Linked DNA regions of Homo sapiens: region 1 is linked to region 2. A link means that fine-mapping ties the variant in region 2 to the expression of a gene that starts in the linked region. Tissue or cell type: subcutaneous fat. Region 2 holds a variant in brackets; the other region holds the start of a gene. All regions are shown on one strand. Distances are from middle to middle.

Evidence for each region. PIP is the estimated chance that this variant, and not a neighbour inherited with it, causes the effect.
Region 1: it holds the start of MUC4, and the variant in region 2 is fine-mapped to the expression of MUC4 in subcutaneous fat (GTEx, PIP above 0.99).

The regions. Positions count from the first base shown.
Region 1 is chr3:195,808,010-195,816,110 of GRCh38, reverse strand. MUC4 (mucin 4, cell surface associated) reads left to right here and starts at 4,182. Exons shown (of 25, transcript NM_018406.7): 1 at 4,182-4,375. The coding sequence starts at 4,294. It overlaps LOC124905352 (vegetative cell wall protein gp1-like), which reads right to left and starts at 406. Exons shown (of 3, transcript XM_047449429.1): 1 at 1-406. The coding sequence starts at 396. RefSeq lists enhancers at 5,922-6,485, 6,486-7,049.
Region 2 is chr3:196,022,299-196,030,399 of GRCh38, reverse strand. It overlaps LOC124909478 (a long non-coding RNA gene), which reads left to right. Exons shown (of 5, transcript XR_007096234.1): 2 at 3,140-3,263; 3 at 6,442-6,594. Among named protein-coding and RNA genes, the nearest start is that of TFRC, 56 kb to the left of the region's middle. The variant T/A (reference allele first, on the strand shown) is at 4,494.

The sequences.
Region 1 (8,101 bases), 210 kb after region 2:
TGGCACCTGCGTAAGGAGAAGGAGGCCGGGCTGGGCAGGAGGATGTGGCACCTGCGTAAGGAGAAGGAGGCCGGGCTGGGCAGGAGGATGTGGCACCTGCGTAGGGAGAAGGAGGCCGGGCTGGGCAGGAGGATGTGGCACCTGCGTAAGGAGAAGGAGGCCGGGCTGGGCAGGAGGATGTGGCACCTGCGTAAGGAGAAGGAGGCCGGGCTGGGCAGGAGGATGTGGCACCTGCGTAAGGAGAAGGAGGCCGGGCTGGGCAGGAGGATGTGGCACCTGCGTAAGGAGAAGGAGGCCGGGCTGGGCAGGAGGATGTGGCACCTGTGTAAGAAGAAGGAGGCCGGGCTGGGCAGGAGGATGTGGCACAGCTGACACAGCCACAAAGCTCCTGCCCATGGGGCGCTCTGAGGGGCAGACTGCCTGTTGGCGGAGTCTTGTGGGGTGGAAATGGTGAGGTCACTGTGATGCCACTTTGCTTAGTCATCGGCCACAGGGTCACCTGGAGAAGAGCATGAGCTCAGCATAAAAGCAAGGCCCACCCTGCAGGGGCCAGCAGCTGGGAGCTGTCCACTAACCACTATCCTTGCAGCTGGACAGCGAGGCCCCTCCAAAAGGCCGTCTCCACCTGCCACCGGGAAAGGACCCGGAGCGAAGGATGTCGTGGGCGGTCAGCCCAGGTGATTGCCCTTCTTTTGCTTTGGAGCCAGGCAGAACAGAGCTCAAATTCCAGCTTTGGGACAGTGTGTGGCCCAGAAGGCTGTAACTGCGGAGTTAACACTCTCCAGTTTCCCTAGATGGCCCGACCTGGCCGGTGACTCGGGGATGATGAAGCTCCTGGAGCCTCAGCGTGCTCACTTGAGAGGTAGGGCAGCGCTTTGTACTTCACAGGGCCATGGGGACAGGCTCAGGGCCTGGCACTCTAGTGACCGGCTTCATGCTGGGTCACTGACTAGGGAATCCACACACCTTTTTAGTCCAGACTGAGTAGGTAAATCAGACTTAATAAACATCCAGCTTCCTGCTCGAGATCAGCCTAGTTGTCCTAAGTCTGACAAGATTGAACTTTATTCACAGCACGAGGCATAAATGATATAAAGGTAAGCAATTTTAGGGGACCCAAAAAACTAGGGACTCCTACTTGGGTAGCTTAGAAGGGGAATCTCTCTTGGAGATCCTGGCTTTGCTGCCTCAAACCCAGCTGTCTCTTCAAGCCAAGTCTGGGAGAATCTCATGATCTTATCCTTGCTCCAATTTACTTACACCCCACATCCACACTAAGCTCTTCCTGCCTCCCGTGGAATATTAACTTACACCTGACTTCAGACTCCTGCCCCTATGCAGACCCAGCAGTATGCGGGCCTAGGAGGTTTTTCGGCCACAAGGAACTAGAGAAGCCACTCATTTTGTCCCCTCTCATTCACCCCATTCTGTCCCCATCGGATGCCTTGGGAGGAGAGAAGGAAGGACAAATGGGTGTCCCGTGACCCAACCCAGATGAAGACAGAGCCATTTATCACAGAGACCCAGACACATCCTAACTCTGGAAAATGGGCATATTGAGGGGAGCTGGAAAGCAGAAGGGAAACGGGCGTGGGCAGGGAAGAGGTGAACAGGAGTGCGCACGCCCAGTTCTCCAGGATCTCACGCTCCTAATCAGGATCCTATAAGACTCAAAGGGGACGCAGGAAAGACCTGGGCCTGGAAATTCACTTCCGGACTCCTCCTGTATCCTGGCTGGCCCTCGTTTGTGTCTCCCTCCAGGGATGATGCCCGGATGGAAGGAGGAGCCACGTTCCTCCACAGGTGTCCTCCACAACAGGTGTCCTCACAACAGGTGTCGTAACAACAGGTGTCCTCACAACAGGTGTCCTAATACTCCCGCAGCCCCTCAGCATCTACAGGCTCACTCCCACCCTACAACCTTTCAGATAGGTGTTATCCCCATTTTACAGGTGAACGAGGAAAACAGCTCGAAGAGGCTGTGACTTTGTGGTGACGCGGTGGCAGAGCTGGGATCAAGCCCAGGTTTGTAACGCCCTCCTGGAGTCTCGGCCGTCACAGCAGCTTCCGGAGAGCGCTGTGTGCCTCTGGCCTTCCTGGCATGGGAAAGAGGTCAGCTACCTGTGTTCGGTCAACAAGATGTCCAGCGCTTAGTTTGGTCTCACCTGGATGCTCCTTTCTCCTCTAGAGATGGAAAACTGTTGTCCTGAAAGCGTCACCAAACAAAACCTGTGGAAAGGTAATGGGGGGACCCACGAGCAAGAGCTGACAGAAAAATGACCACGGGCCGGGTGCAGTGGCTCACGCCTGTAATCCCAGCACTTTGGGAGGCCAAGGCGGGCGGATCATCTGAGTTCAGGGGTTCGAGACCAACCTGGCCAACATGGTGAAACCTCGTCCCTACTAAAAATACAAAAAAAATTAGCCGGGCGTGGTGGCAGGTGCCTGTAGTCCCAGCTACTAGGGAGGCTGAGGCAGGGGAATGGCGTGAACCCGGGAGGCGGAGCTTGCAGTGAGCTGAGATGGTGCCACTGCACTCCAGCCTGGGCGACAGAGCAAGACTCCATCTCAAAAAAAAAAAAAAGTGCAAAATGATCACGAAGGCCAAGCTGGGCCTTGGTGTCTGCGAATTCCCTGCAGTAGGTCCCTCCTGCTGCCCCGTCCAGGCGCCCACAGGATGCTCCACATGACTCTTTACCTTTATGATTTTCTTACCTCCAGGAAAGAACAGGGTCAGCTCGTCCACCCAGAGCTGGAGGGACTGTTGGGGGACCACGCCACTTCCCCACGGTATCCGCATTATTATGGCGTGGCCCAGGCTTTGGCCTGGGGCCATGAACAGACTTTCAGCTTCTAGAAGCAAGTGGTCACAGGGCCTCCGTGACCCTCGGAGACAGCGCCACAGCGTCGGTTGCCTACTCCTTGCTGGACAAGGCTGGCTCTGCTTGGGAATGCAGAAACCCTGAGTCCTTGTCCTGGGCCCCACAGTGTCTGAGCATCGAAGGTCCCTGCTCTGGGACGAGTCACCCCACAGACACCCCACATTCGGGAATCAAGTCTTGAGGAATCAGAAGCAGAGATTCACACTGTGGCAAAGAGGGGAGCGGAGGTATCCCCGTTTTCCTTTGCAGAGAGCTACACCAACTGCCCTCTTCGTCTTTACAACCCTACTTGGGGTCCCTTTCCCTCCTCGCTTGTGCCTGTGAGTTCCAAGAGGTGGAACTGGGGTGAGCAGAGCCCCCAGGTCTCCAGGAGCAGCTCCACCTCCTCACAGGTTACAGTCGCTTCCTCCTACCGAGGTTCTGCCTTCAACCCACTGCCCATGCCAGCTCCCTCAGGCCAGTCTCCCAGACTGTCCCTGGCTCCCTGCACCCTGGCTCCAGCTCCCTGCCCTGGAAAGAAGAAGTCCACCATCTGGTGAGGGTCTGCCACGCATCTGGGGTCTGCCATGCGTCTGCACTGAGGTTCTGCCACGAGTCTGCACTGAGGTTCTGCCATGCGTCTGGAGTCTGCCACGCGTCTGGGGTCTGCCACGCGTCTGGAGTCTGCCATGGGTCTGGGGTCTGCCATGTGTCTGGGATCTGCCGTGCGTCTGGGGTCTGCCACGCATCTGCACTGAGGTTCTGCCACGCGTCTGGGGTCTGCCACGCGTCTGGGGTCTGCCACGCGTCTGGGGTCTGCCACGCGCCTGCACTGAGCAGATATTCCAAGCACACCACCCCTTTCCAAAAGACGGCATACAGTGCATTTCTGTTCCTGCCCCTCACCCACATGGTTCCCCGCTTCCCAATTCCTTGGGGTCTGCTTAAGTCTCACTCTCTTTCCCCCATTCATACAGCCCCAAGGTCGCTCCCTCTGGGGCCCTTTCTTCCCCATTCTTCCCAGCAGCCCAAAGCTCTGGTGGGACAGGGGCAGCCCCTGGGGAGGGAGGAGAGGACCCAGGAACCCGGCTAGGAGGGTGGCCCACCCATTTCCAGTGTGACCTGTTCCCATTCCCCCATGTCTCCTCCCATCCCTCCCGCCACTCAGCTCAGGCTGATGAGAAGCAGAGCAACGGGTGTATCGGTGTTTTCTTTCCTGGTGGGGTAGTGGGGTGGGGCTGAGGAGAGAAAAGGGTGATTAGCGTGGGGCCCCGCCCTCTTTTGTCCTCTTCCCAGGTTCCCTGGCCCCTTCGGAGAAACGCACTTGGTTCGGGCCAGCCGCCTGAGGGGACGGGCTCACGTCTGCTCCTCACACTGCAGCTGCTGGGCCGTGGAGCTTCCCCAGGGAGCCAGGGGGACTTTTGCCGCAGCCATGAAGGGGGCACGCTGGAGGAGGGTCCCCTGGGTGTCCCTGAGCTGCCTGTGTCTCTGCCTCCTTCCGCATGTGGTCCCAGGTAAGTGATGGAGACAGCAGATGAGGCTGGCTGCGGGGAGCACTTGGGGGAGGTGGGAGCTGTCAGAGAAAGAGGTCCGGGGAGACAGAGAGAGAGAGAGAGAGAATAGGGGAAAGGGAGACAGCGAAGAGGAAGAGAAGGGAGAGAAAAAGAGGGAGAGGGAAAGGAGAAAGAGATGAATGGGACAACATGGGGGGAAGGTGGAGAGAGACCCAGAGAGGGAAAGAAGAGGAAGAGAAGAGGGAGAGAGAAAGAAGAGTGGAGGCCGTGCGCGGTGGCTCATGCCTGTAATCCCAGCACTTTCGGAGGCCAAGGCAGGAGATCACCTGAGGTCAGGAGTTCGAGACCAGCCTGGCCGACATGGTGAAACCCCGTCTCTACTAAATATACAAAAATTAGCCGGTCGTGGTGGGCCCCACCTGTAATTCCAGCTACTCAGGAGTCTGAGGCAGGAGAATCACTTGAACCTGGGAGGTGGAGGTTGCAGTGAGCCAAGATCGCGCCACTGCACTCCAGCCTGGGAGAGAGAGCGAGACTCTGTCTCAAAATAAATAAATAAATAAATAAATAAATAAATAAATAAATAAATATAAAATAAAATAAAAAATAAGAAGAGGAGAAAAGTGGGGAAGAGGAGGCATGAACTGGCAGATACGGGACAAGATCTGAGGGGAAAGACAGAGGGAGAATGCTCGAAAGAGAGAGAAAAGAGAACAGAGGGCCAGAGAGCAGCCCGGCGATGTCTGGAAGGATCCATGGTGAGAGCCCAGGCTTACTCGCAGAGAGAAAGACAGGCAGAGCCAGAGCAAGAGGAACAGAGTCAAGGAGAAAGATGTACACCCTTGTGTACAGAGCTGGGGGTAGAGGGGATGCCAGGAAAGCTGGGTGATGGAGACGGAAGAAAACTCATGTAAAGCTGCAGGGTGAGAGGACGAGACAGGTGAGACGCAGACAAACTGAGGACCCTGGGAATGGAGAGAGGAGAAGATCGGGAGACAGCAGCAAGCAAGGGAAGCGACAAGGAGGAGAGGGGCAGGCCGGCCGGGAGGGTGGTGCGGAGGAGGCGGCCAGGGCGCAGAGGGCCGGGAGGTGCTGGCCGTGGGCTTCTTACCTCTGAGCTCGGGTTTAAAAGCCTCCATTTGGGTCACGGCCTTGCCTGGGGCTCGTAGCCCCGGCATTGGCCTTGGGCTCCTCCGTGTACAGAGCTGGGAGGGGAGGGATGCCAGGCCTGTGGGAGATGTTCCCTCGGGGGCCCCCGTCCTCTTCCCCACACTTTCCAGGCTGTCCCTCTGGCTTCAGGACCAAGTTTTATTCTGTGTTTCTGGGTGTCTGAGTCTTTGGGGGAGAGTCTGGGGTCCAGAGTTCAAGCTGGGGTTAGAGTCTCAGCTCCTGCCCTGCCTCTCAGCAGGCTAAGAACAGTCGCCGAGGGAAAATATTTCTTGGGCGCATATTTGAGGAGCTTCCTGGGAGTGAGTCAGAAGGCGAGTGCCGTTTAAAGGCTGCAAGAGAAGCCATGCTGGTGAAGCGGACCCTTCCACCTCGGGATGTTTCAGGACTAGGCTGAGGGCAAAGGAAACTGCCACCACCTCCCTACACCTCCCCACCCTCCAGCACCCCCACCCCACCCTGGCCACACAACCCCGCTCCAGTGCTCATCCCACCGTGAGGACGTGGAGGCCGGAAGGAGCCGCCACACGGCCCTGCCCTGCAGATGTGGTTGAAGGAGTCTCCACGGGAATCATGACTCCCAGAGCGAGGCTGGGGCTTGGGGCGCCGGGGAGGCAGCTTGGATTTAGGAGCCCCAGGGCCAAGTCTTTGCCGTGAACTGTTCTGGCCCCTGTGACCAGGCCCTGCCCCGTGTCTCCCCAGGGCCCCGGTCCCCTGTGTAAAAAGCAGTGGTGAACGGTTGGACCTCCTGACGCCCAAGTTCTTGAGTTTCCAAATCTGTGATTTAAAGCTGAGCCCAAATGTGCTGGGTACCAGCTGGACACTCAGCTCCATGTGGAGCCAGGAAGTGGGGTCTGTGGAGAGGAGCGCAGAGGGGCAAGACCTGGGGTGGGCGTGGAAAAGCACGGGGGCGTGACCCGGAGAAGGAGTGAAGGACTGTTGGTGTGCAAGGGCGTCTCCATGACGACCCGAAGAAGCTAGGCATGTCGTGGAGCGCTGAGTCCTTTGCGTCGCTAAGGGGACCAAGTGGAGCTGGGCCAGGAGAGGAGATGGTCGTGGCTGGGAGATGGCACCCACACATCTGACCGGGCATGACCAGGGCCTTGGCAGGAAAAGCAGTCACCAAGGGCGGGTGGGCAGCCCCCACCCCCACAGGGCAGCTGCTGGAGGACTGGCAGCCAGCCAGCCCCGTTCCTTTTGGCTCCCTGAAGGGGTTTACAGATGACCTGCCTATACTTGAGTCTAGGGTCTGTTTGCACACTTGCCGGCAGGACCCTCACCCAGGCTGGGTCACACTGAAGCCCAGGCCAGAGGAAAAACACAGGGTTTCCACAAAGGAGCTGCCGCAATGAGGGTTTCCTTAAGGAACAGCCCTGGCTCTCAAGGGTTAAAGGATAAGGCACAGCAGACAGAGGTGGGCTAGACAAGGACAGATGGAAATTTGGTGTCTACTGGTCGCCCCAGGCAGGAATGACTCAGAAGGAAGCCTGGCCGTCCTGGTTCCATGCCACAGGGAAAGGCAACTGGGTCGAAATAGGCCTTGGTCTCCAGCACTATCAGTGACCCCAGGGAGGTGACAGGCTGGAGCAAGTGCAGGGCAGGCAGGGGAGGGGACGCCGGCCACAGCGCACTCCACGGGGAAGGGTCTTTATGGGCCCCTCCTCGGAGAACCCCCGGTCTATCTGTCAGTCTGGGACAGGCCACCTCAACTTGCCACCGAGGACACCAAAACTCTCCACAGACCCCTCTGCCCCTCTGGGAAACCCCACTGTGCTCCAGGACACTCAAAAGGAAAGGATCCCTGGACAAGAGGTCCTGCCAGGAACATCAGCCAAATTTTGGCCAACGACCAGCAAGGTGCACAGGGAAGAGCAGGGGCTGAAACTCAGAGGTCCAGCATCAGCGACGCCCTTGGCAGCCCAGGGAACACAGGCAACGCCTTTTGGCTCTGGAGTCTTAGGCTCTTCATCGGCAAACTGAGCCCAGGGGGAAGGGGCTACTACGTAGGGTTGTCATGAGGATGAAACGAGACAGCATCTGGTGTAAAGTAGAAAAGGCATAAAGGGCCGGGCGCGGTGGCTCACGCTGTAATCCCAGCACTTTTGGAGGCCCAGGCGGGTGGATCACCTGAGGTCAGGAGTTCAAGACCAGCTTGGCCAACCCTGTCTCCACTAAAAATAAAAAATTTTGCCGGGCGTGGTGGCGAGCGCCTGTAATTCCAGCTACTCGGGAGGCTGAGGTAGGAGAATGGCTTGAACCTGGGAGGCAGAGGTTGCAGGGAGCCGAAATGGCAGCACTCTAGCTTGGGTGACAGAGCAAGACTCTGTCTAAAAAAAAAAGAAAAGCCATAAAGACGTGTTTGAGAAAGAGGCCTGGGAAGACGGGGGAAGGAGGGTGATTGAACCCGGAATGGCACTTGTGTCGGCCCAGGGTCATATCCCTTCATCTAAGGATCCTCGTGCCTCTAAAAAGCCACCCCGTGCTTCCTGTGGGTTTGCAAGGGCTGGCTTGGTGTATTCAGAATGTGGCTTGCTGCATGAACGGACCCCGAGGGCCATG
Region 2 (8,101 bases):
TAAATGTTCATCAAAGATATTGGCCTGAAGTTTTTTTTCTTTTGTTCTTTTTTAAAATGTGCCTTTGTCTGGTTTGGTATCAAGGTAATATTAACCTTGTAGGATGAGTTTGGAAGTATCCCCTCCTCCTCTATTTTTTGGAATAGTTTGAACAGGATTGGTATTAGTTATTTAAATATTTGGTAAAATTCAGCAGTGAAGCCTTCAGGTCCTGGGCTTTTCTTTACTGGGAGACTTTTGATTATGGCTTTGATTTCATTATTAGTTATTGGTCTGTTCAGGTTTTGGATTTCTTCGTGGTTCAATCACAGTAGGTTGAATATGTCTAGGAATTTATCCACTTCTAGGTTTTCCAATTTATTAGCAACATATAGTTTTCATAGAAGTCTCTAGTGAGCCTTTGAATCTCTGCAGTATCCGTTGTAATGCCTCCTTTTACATTTCTGATTTTATCTATTTGAGTCTTTTTTCTTTTTTTCTTAGTCTGGCTAAAGGTTTGTCAATTTTGTTTATCTTTTCAAAAAACAAACTTTTTTGTTTTTTTGATTTTTTTTTATTTCAATTTCATTTATTTCTGCTCTGATCTTTATTATTTGTTTTCTTCTGATTTTGGGTTTGACTTGCTCTTGCTTTTCTCGTTCTTTCTTTTCTTTTCTTTTTTTTTTTTTTTTGAGACTGATTCTCACTCTGTCACCCAGGCTGGAGTGCAGTGGTGCCATCTCCGCTCACTGCAACCTCTGCCTCCTGGGTTCGAGCAATTCTCCTGCCTCAGCCTCCTGAGTAGCTGGGATTACAGGTGCCTGGCACCACACCCAGCTAATTTTTTGTATTTTTGGTAGAGACAGGGTTTCAATATGTTGGCCAGGCTGGTCTTGAACTCCTGACCTCAAGCAATCCACCCGTCTCAGCCTCCCAAAGTGCTGGGATTACAGGCATGAGCCACCGCGCCTGGCTCGCTCTTCTAGTTCTTTAAGATGCATTGTTAGGTGGTTTATTTGAAGTTTTTCTACTTTCTTTCTTTCTTTTTTTTTTTTTTGAGACAGCGTCTCAATCTGTTGCCCAGGATGGAGTGCAGTGGTACAATCTTGGCTCACTGCAACCTCTGCCTCCTAGGTTCAAGAGATTCTCATGTCTCGGCCTCCCGAGTAGCTGGGATTAGAGGCGTGTGCCACCCCGCCCTGCTAATTTTTGTATTTTTATTTATGTATTTATTTAGGAGACAGAGTCTTGCTCTGTCACCCAGGCTGGAGTGCAATGGCACAATCTCAGCTCACTGCAACCTCTGCCTCCTGGGTTCAAGCGATTCTCCCACCTCAGCCCCCCGACTAGCTGGGACTACAGGCACCCGCCACCACGCCCAGCTAATTTTTGTATTTTTAGTAGAGACAGGGTTTCACCATATTGACCAGGCTGGTCGCTGGTCTTGAACTCCTGACCTTGTGATCCGCCCACCTCAGCCTCCCAAAGTGCTGGGATTACAGGCGTGAGCCACCGTGCCTGGCCTGTAATCTTTAAAGCTCAATAGAAATGTAAGATCTTGCTATTGTTATGCGATTATAAAATCTTCCATTCCTTGCTTTTTCCTTGGTTGCTGGCCTAGAAACTAAATCAATTCTGTTCTCTTTTTATTTTTTAAAAGTAATCTCGAACATGTGAAATTGCTGATATTTTAATGTATTGCTGATGTTTCATCTATTCCAATGGTAGCTTCCTCTGGTTTCTTCTAATAGTTAAAACTCTATCATGCCTATAATCCCAGCACTTTGGGAGGTCAAGGCGGGCAGATCACCTGAGGTCAGAAGTTTGAGACCAGCCTGGCCAACATGGCAAAACCCTGTCTCCACTTAAAAGATGAAAATTGGCAGGAGAATCGCTTGAACCCGGGAGACCTTGGTTGCAGTGAACCAAGATTACACCACTGTACTCCAGTCTGGGCAACAAAGCGAGACTCAGAAAAAAAAAAAAATATATATATATATATATATATATATATGTATGTATATATACACACACATATCAAAGCAATATATTTGTATAGTGAAACCTCAGACAGTGCCACTAAGTGAATGATAATATAAAACTCTTATTTCTTATTTTGCTATGATGTTAGGTTCTCAACAATCATTCCGCCTGCTGGTTTACCTTGGTCTTTTTTCCCATTGAGATGGGTTTCCCTTCAATGTCTGGTGATTCTTCATTGTTCACATTTAATAGTGACACGTGAAGAAGGAGAATGAGTCTGTGTTATCATTAGTGAAAGGCTCGTCTAGATGGTGATTCTTCACTGTTCACATTTAATAGTGACACGTGAAGAAGGAGAATGAGTCTGTGTTATCATTAGTGAAAGGCTTGTCTAGATGGTGATTCTTCATTGTTCACATTTAATAGTAACACATGAAGGAGAATGAGTCTGTGTTATCATTAGTGAAAGGCTCGTCTAGGTGGTGATTCTTCACTGTTCACATTTAATAGTAACACATGAAGGAGAATGAGTCTGTGTTATCATTAGTGAAAGGCTCGTCTAGATGGTGATTCTTCACTGTTCACATTTAATAGTGACACGTGAAGAAGGAGAATGAGTCTGTGTTATCATTAGTGAAAGGCTCGTCTAGATGGTGATTCTTCACTGTTCACATTTAATAGTGACACGTGAAGAAGGAGAATGAGTCTGTGTTATCATTAGTGAAAGGCTCGTCTAGGTGGTGATTCTTCACTGTTCACATTTAATAGTAACACATGAAGGAGAATGAGTGTGTTATCATTAGTGAAAGGCTCGTCTAGGTGGTGATTCTTCACTGTTCACATTTAATAGTAACACGTGAAGGAGAATGAGTGTGTTATCATTAGTGAAAGGCTCGTCTAGAGGTTTTGCTTCGGGGAGTCGATGGGGTTTCCGCATGTTAGTAAGTGATGCCTTTGGTCTGGATGGTTTCCTTCCTCTGGAGAAAACCTTCTCCTCTCCTCTCTGGAAGGCAGCTGCTTGCTTGTTGGTTGTTGGTGTTCTACTCACTGGTTACCCGAGGGGTGGGGTGCTGGCATCGGTGAGGGAGGATAATGAGGGTTGACTGTCAATGTACAGATTTTAATCGACCCTCCTGTTTTCTGATGCCTGCCTCACTTCTCTGCCCCTCACCCCCAGGAAGGTCCACAGATGATGCTCCTTCTCACGGATGCGAGGCCATCAAATCACTTTTTGTCTCCGCTGCTCTCTCTCCATCGTGGATAGCCACCATGGTTTCTCAGGAGGGAAAGGACACAACTGGGTCAGTATTTCGTCTACCATCTTTAACTTGGAAGCTTCTTCTTCCAACTAAAGCTAGAATAGCAAAGCTTGAGAAAGGGTTTTGAAAATATTTAGTAACTCAAGTTTTTGGGATGATTTGAACATCTTAAGGCACTAAGTTACTGGGTTTTCTGAAAATGGTGATGGGGAATCATTAATTAATTAATTAATCTCTGCTTTGTTTTAAATATATTGCACCAGGTTTGTGTGTTAGAATTCACACTCAAAAAGTACAGGTTTAATTTTGATATATTTTCTTTGAAGAAATAGCTTAACTGCTCTTCAATGCTATACTTAGGATGTGGCCAAATCTTTATTTGAGACAAAATGTATTATTTCTCTCTATGTAAATTAAGATGTTGTACTTTGAAAAATCATTCCTTTGGGAATTTTTAGATCTTTCTCAGTTTTCTTGAACCTTTTGTGTAAGAGCAATGACCTTATATTTGTCACATTGTTCCTATTAAACACTTAGCTGTGGGCACGAAAGAAACGGGCAGTTCTGTTACAAGAATAAGGTGGAGAAGGTAGTATCACTCTTACTCTTTCATGGATGGGCAAACAGGTTCAGGAATTTCCCAGAACCAAGGTTTTCTATCTTATAATTGGGTGTTCTTTGTCTCACAACATGCGCTTCGTCCTTCCGTATGAATCTCTTTGCTCAGGCTGACTCTGAATGTCAGCTCTCACATGCTAAGCACACATTAATTTCTCTTATCCTTTATTCCCACCTAGTGTGCGGGTGGTTTTGAGAGGATCCTGTACGGTATGGTCCTCAGGTGCTTGGCAAAATGGGTCCACCCCCTCCCGGGTAACCCTGGCTCTAGGCCCTCTTCCATGTCCTGGCCTTCCCCAGCAGTCCCCTGGAGCCCTCTGGCGACCAAAACTCCACAGTGAAGCGCCGCCTGGAGTGGTGGCCGGTGAAGGGTTCCCAGTTCGGGACACGTTATTCCTCTTCTGTAAAAACTGCACCACTTTCAGCTAGACTCTCAGGCAAAGGCACAGAAAATTACCTGATTAGATTCATGATCTTTTAGAGGTTTCCTATCGCTGAGGTCATCTGAGCCAGCAGTTTTCAAAATGAGTTGACAGCTTCATATCCTAAAATGTTGCATTTAAATTCCAGTTAAAAATAGTTTAACTACTGTATTTTTCCATTCTAAGACAGATTTTTTTCATGCTTTGCTTTTTCTGGAGTTAGCATGCATCT[T/A]ATAATTGATACACTTCATTTAATATGATGGGATCTCTTCTGTTCTTCTAAAAAATTATCAATACATTTGTGATGAATATTGGTTTAATAGCATCTCAGAATGTAAAACATCCAGGTTGCAATCATTACCTCTTCTACAATATTTAGGTGAAGAAGGTCATATTTCTTTCTTTTTTAAGTCAAATTATATCTAGCAGAAACTCCCATATATCAAGATGTGGAAGATTCCAATTCACGGAGGTTCCTCGTCATATTCTGTGCCAGACACTGGAGGCCGGTATGGTGGGACTTCATGCTCCGCACCTTCCTGTCTCACTACTTTTCCTGTGACTGCCAATTGCTGGCCCTTTACTCTGAAGGGGGTTAGAGGACGACTGCCTCTGGCATTGGGGAGGGGATACTCCTCACAGCACAAGAAGTGGCAAGAAAGCAGCTGACAAATGCTGGAACCTTGGCCACACCAACCACATCTGGGGAATTGCATGTGACTAGGGCCAAGCCCATTAGGAATGCTCCTTTTCTGGGAACATCTCTCCAGTATCTTCGTTTTGATTTCCCATTGGCTAGTCCAGCTTACCCCCTTAGATTATTCTAGATCTCCCCAGAAAATACCTGGGTAAGAGTTATCCAGGCAAATTCTCTTTTCCTCCTTTTAACCCTAAAGGCTATATTGGGTGTATGTGTGCACGTGTGTGTGCGTGTGCGTGTGTGTGCATGTGTGTGCCTGCGCGTGCGTGTGCTCGTGTGTGTGCGCGTGTGTGTGCGCTCATGCGTGCATGGGTGTGTGTGTGTTACAGAGAGATCTAATCTGCAGAAGCACAGCTTCTGGGAAAAGGGAAAAGGGCTGCTTTATTTCCTGATGCCTCCAAAGCACACACAAAGAAGATATAAGTTAGTACTTGCTCTAATATTCCATCTGTAACATTGAGCATTTAAAAGTCATAATAATACATTAAAATACCATGCCCATACAAGTGCATTTAAAATGTAGCATTAATGAAACAATTAAATGTCCCAACTTAACCTGTCTTCTTGCAAGCCACGAAATAAATTTCTCCCACTATCTCTATGTGTATGTTTACCATTTGTGCAAATTTACCACTGAAAAGAGATTGTAGACAATTTTTATTTTGATAGCAATCCACTCATGTAAAATTACACACAGAAATACTACTATAACCCATGTGTATTGCAAGATCCAATTAAATGTAAACCAAGGCCCATTTGTTCATGCATGTGTTTTTATGATTTTGTCTGTTGTTTCTCTGACTTACATATTTATAATACAGAATGTGAGAAGAGTGAGCTCTTTGTAGTTATTTAGCTTTAAGGCATAGACAACTGTTTTAGAACCTTTAAAAAGCAATTGCAGATTTTTTTAAAAGTCTCTTGAAATTACAAGTCCTTTTTAAAAATTATTATTCTTTGAAACTACTTTTCTGTATACATCAAGATTTATCAATAGCATATGAACAAAATAAAACGGGACAGGATGGTAATGGCCACCTCATATTGCTTATTTCTTTTATAATAACTAAGTCATATAAATTGAGCTCACAAAAATATTTATATTAATAAAATTATAATTTATCATTGGTAATGTCTGAGTTTTTCTTGTACATTTTTATGTAGCAAGAAAAAAATTTTTACTGTTAAAAATGGTTTTTAAAAAATCGCAGCAAGCCTAAGCCCCTTCATTTTACGAACACAATAACCTGAGGCTCATCAGGGCTGGTGACTCACACAGGCGCACACTCAGCATTGCTGGATGTCGGCTCAGGATCCAGAATGCATTTGAACAACTCACGCTAAGTTAATAAACGCACTTTAAGATAAGCCCATATTAATCCCAAAGTAACTAAACTTGTGGAATTTGTAAAAGAAGATGTTTATGAACGAGGACATGGCATTTCCACATTACTTCTGATTCTCCCCTTTCTAAAAGCAGAATCTACGGTCTCTATTTTCCCGTTGCGAGATTTCAGCGGAGAGCCTGGTGGCACTTACAGCAGACATCACAGATGCCTCAGCGTTTCGGATGAGGACAGTAAAGACCTTCCTTGCTTCATGAAACCTTCGTTTTCCAGGGGAGAAAACACAGGTTGAGTCTAAACTCAGTCCTCCTGTTGAAATATTTTAATGACGCTGAAAGAGGCTGTTGCGTTTGGCAGGTGCGTGTGGAGCTGTGTGGCCCTGCACTGAAGCCCTGCAGTCCTGACTTCTGAGTGGAGCTACAGGAGAATTATGTTAATGTGTTTGCACTACTCGCTCAGTTGTAAAAAGTTACAAATATATTTAATGAGGATAAAATAGTTTAACAATGTTTACACACCTATTTTAGTTATTACATTCTCTAAGCTATTTTTATCCTCACAACCATGGAAGCACTCCGCCATCTCCATTTCAGAAAGTAGACAATAACTGAAAAAAAACTGTCTACTTTTTTAAAACGTGATTTACTTCATTATGAAAGTTCATAGTTTATGTAATTAATACCTTTTTGTGGTCTGCGTTCAGTGGGTGTTGGCATCTGCACACTGTCGTGGGTCCACTGTTGTGGTGAAATCGCACACAGTGATCTCACTGCCCTAAACATCCGGGGCTCTCTGCCCATCCATCCTTTCCTCTCCCCAACCCCTGTCGACCACTGATTATTTTACTATCTATGTAATTTTCCCTTTTCCAAAATGTCACGTAATTACATAGATATTTTACTCTCTATGTAGTTTTTCCTTTTCCAAAATGTCACATAATTGGAATCATACAGTATGTAGCCTTTTTGGCTTCTTTCACTTAGTAATGTGCATTTTGGGTCCCTGTATGCCTTTTCATGACTTGATAGCTCATTTCTTTTCTCACTGAATGATATTCCATTGTCTGTAGGTACCAGAATTTATTTCTCAATTCACCTACTGAAGGACATGTTGGTCACCTCGTTTCTGGTAATTCTGAATAAAGCTTCTATGTAGGTGCCAGCCCTACAGGGTTTGTGGGTTTTTTCTCCCCATGTGCAGAGATGAGAGATTGTAGAAAAAGAGACACAAGACAAAGAGATAAAAGAAAAGACAGCTGGGACCGGGGGACCACTACCACCAAGACGCAGAGACCAGTAGTGGCCCCGAATGCCAGGCTGCGCTGTTATTTATTGGATACAAAGCAAAAGGGGCAGGGTAAAGACTGTGAGTCATCCAACTGATTGATAAGGTCACGGAGTCACGTGTCCACCAGACAGGGGGCCCTTCCCTGTTTGGCAGCCGAGTCAGAGAGACAGAGAGGACAGCTTATGCCATTATTTTTTCTATGCTCTTTTCAGAAAGATCAAAGACTTTAATACTTTCACTAATTTGCTACTGCTATCTAGAAGGCAGAGCCAGGTGTGCAGAGTGGAACATGAGAGCGGACCAGGAGCGTGACCACTGAGGCACAGCATCACAGGGAGACGGTTAGGCCTCCGGATAACTGCAGGCGGGCCTGACTCATGTCAGGCCCTCCACAAAAGGTGGAGGAGTAGAGTCTTCTCTAAACTCCCCCGGGGAAAGGGAGACTCCCTTTCCCGGTCTGCTAGGTAGCGGGTGTTTTTCCTTGACACTGACGCTACCACTAGACCA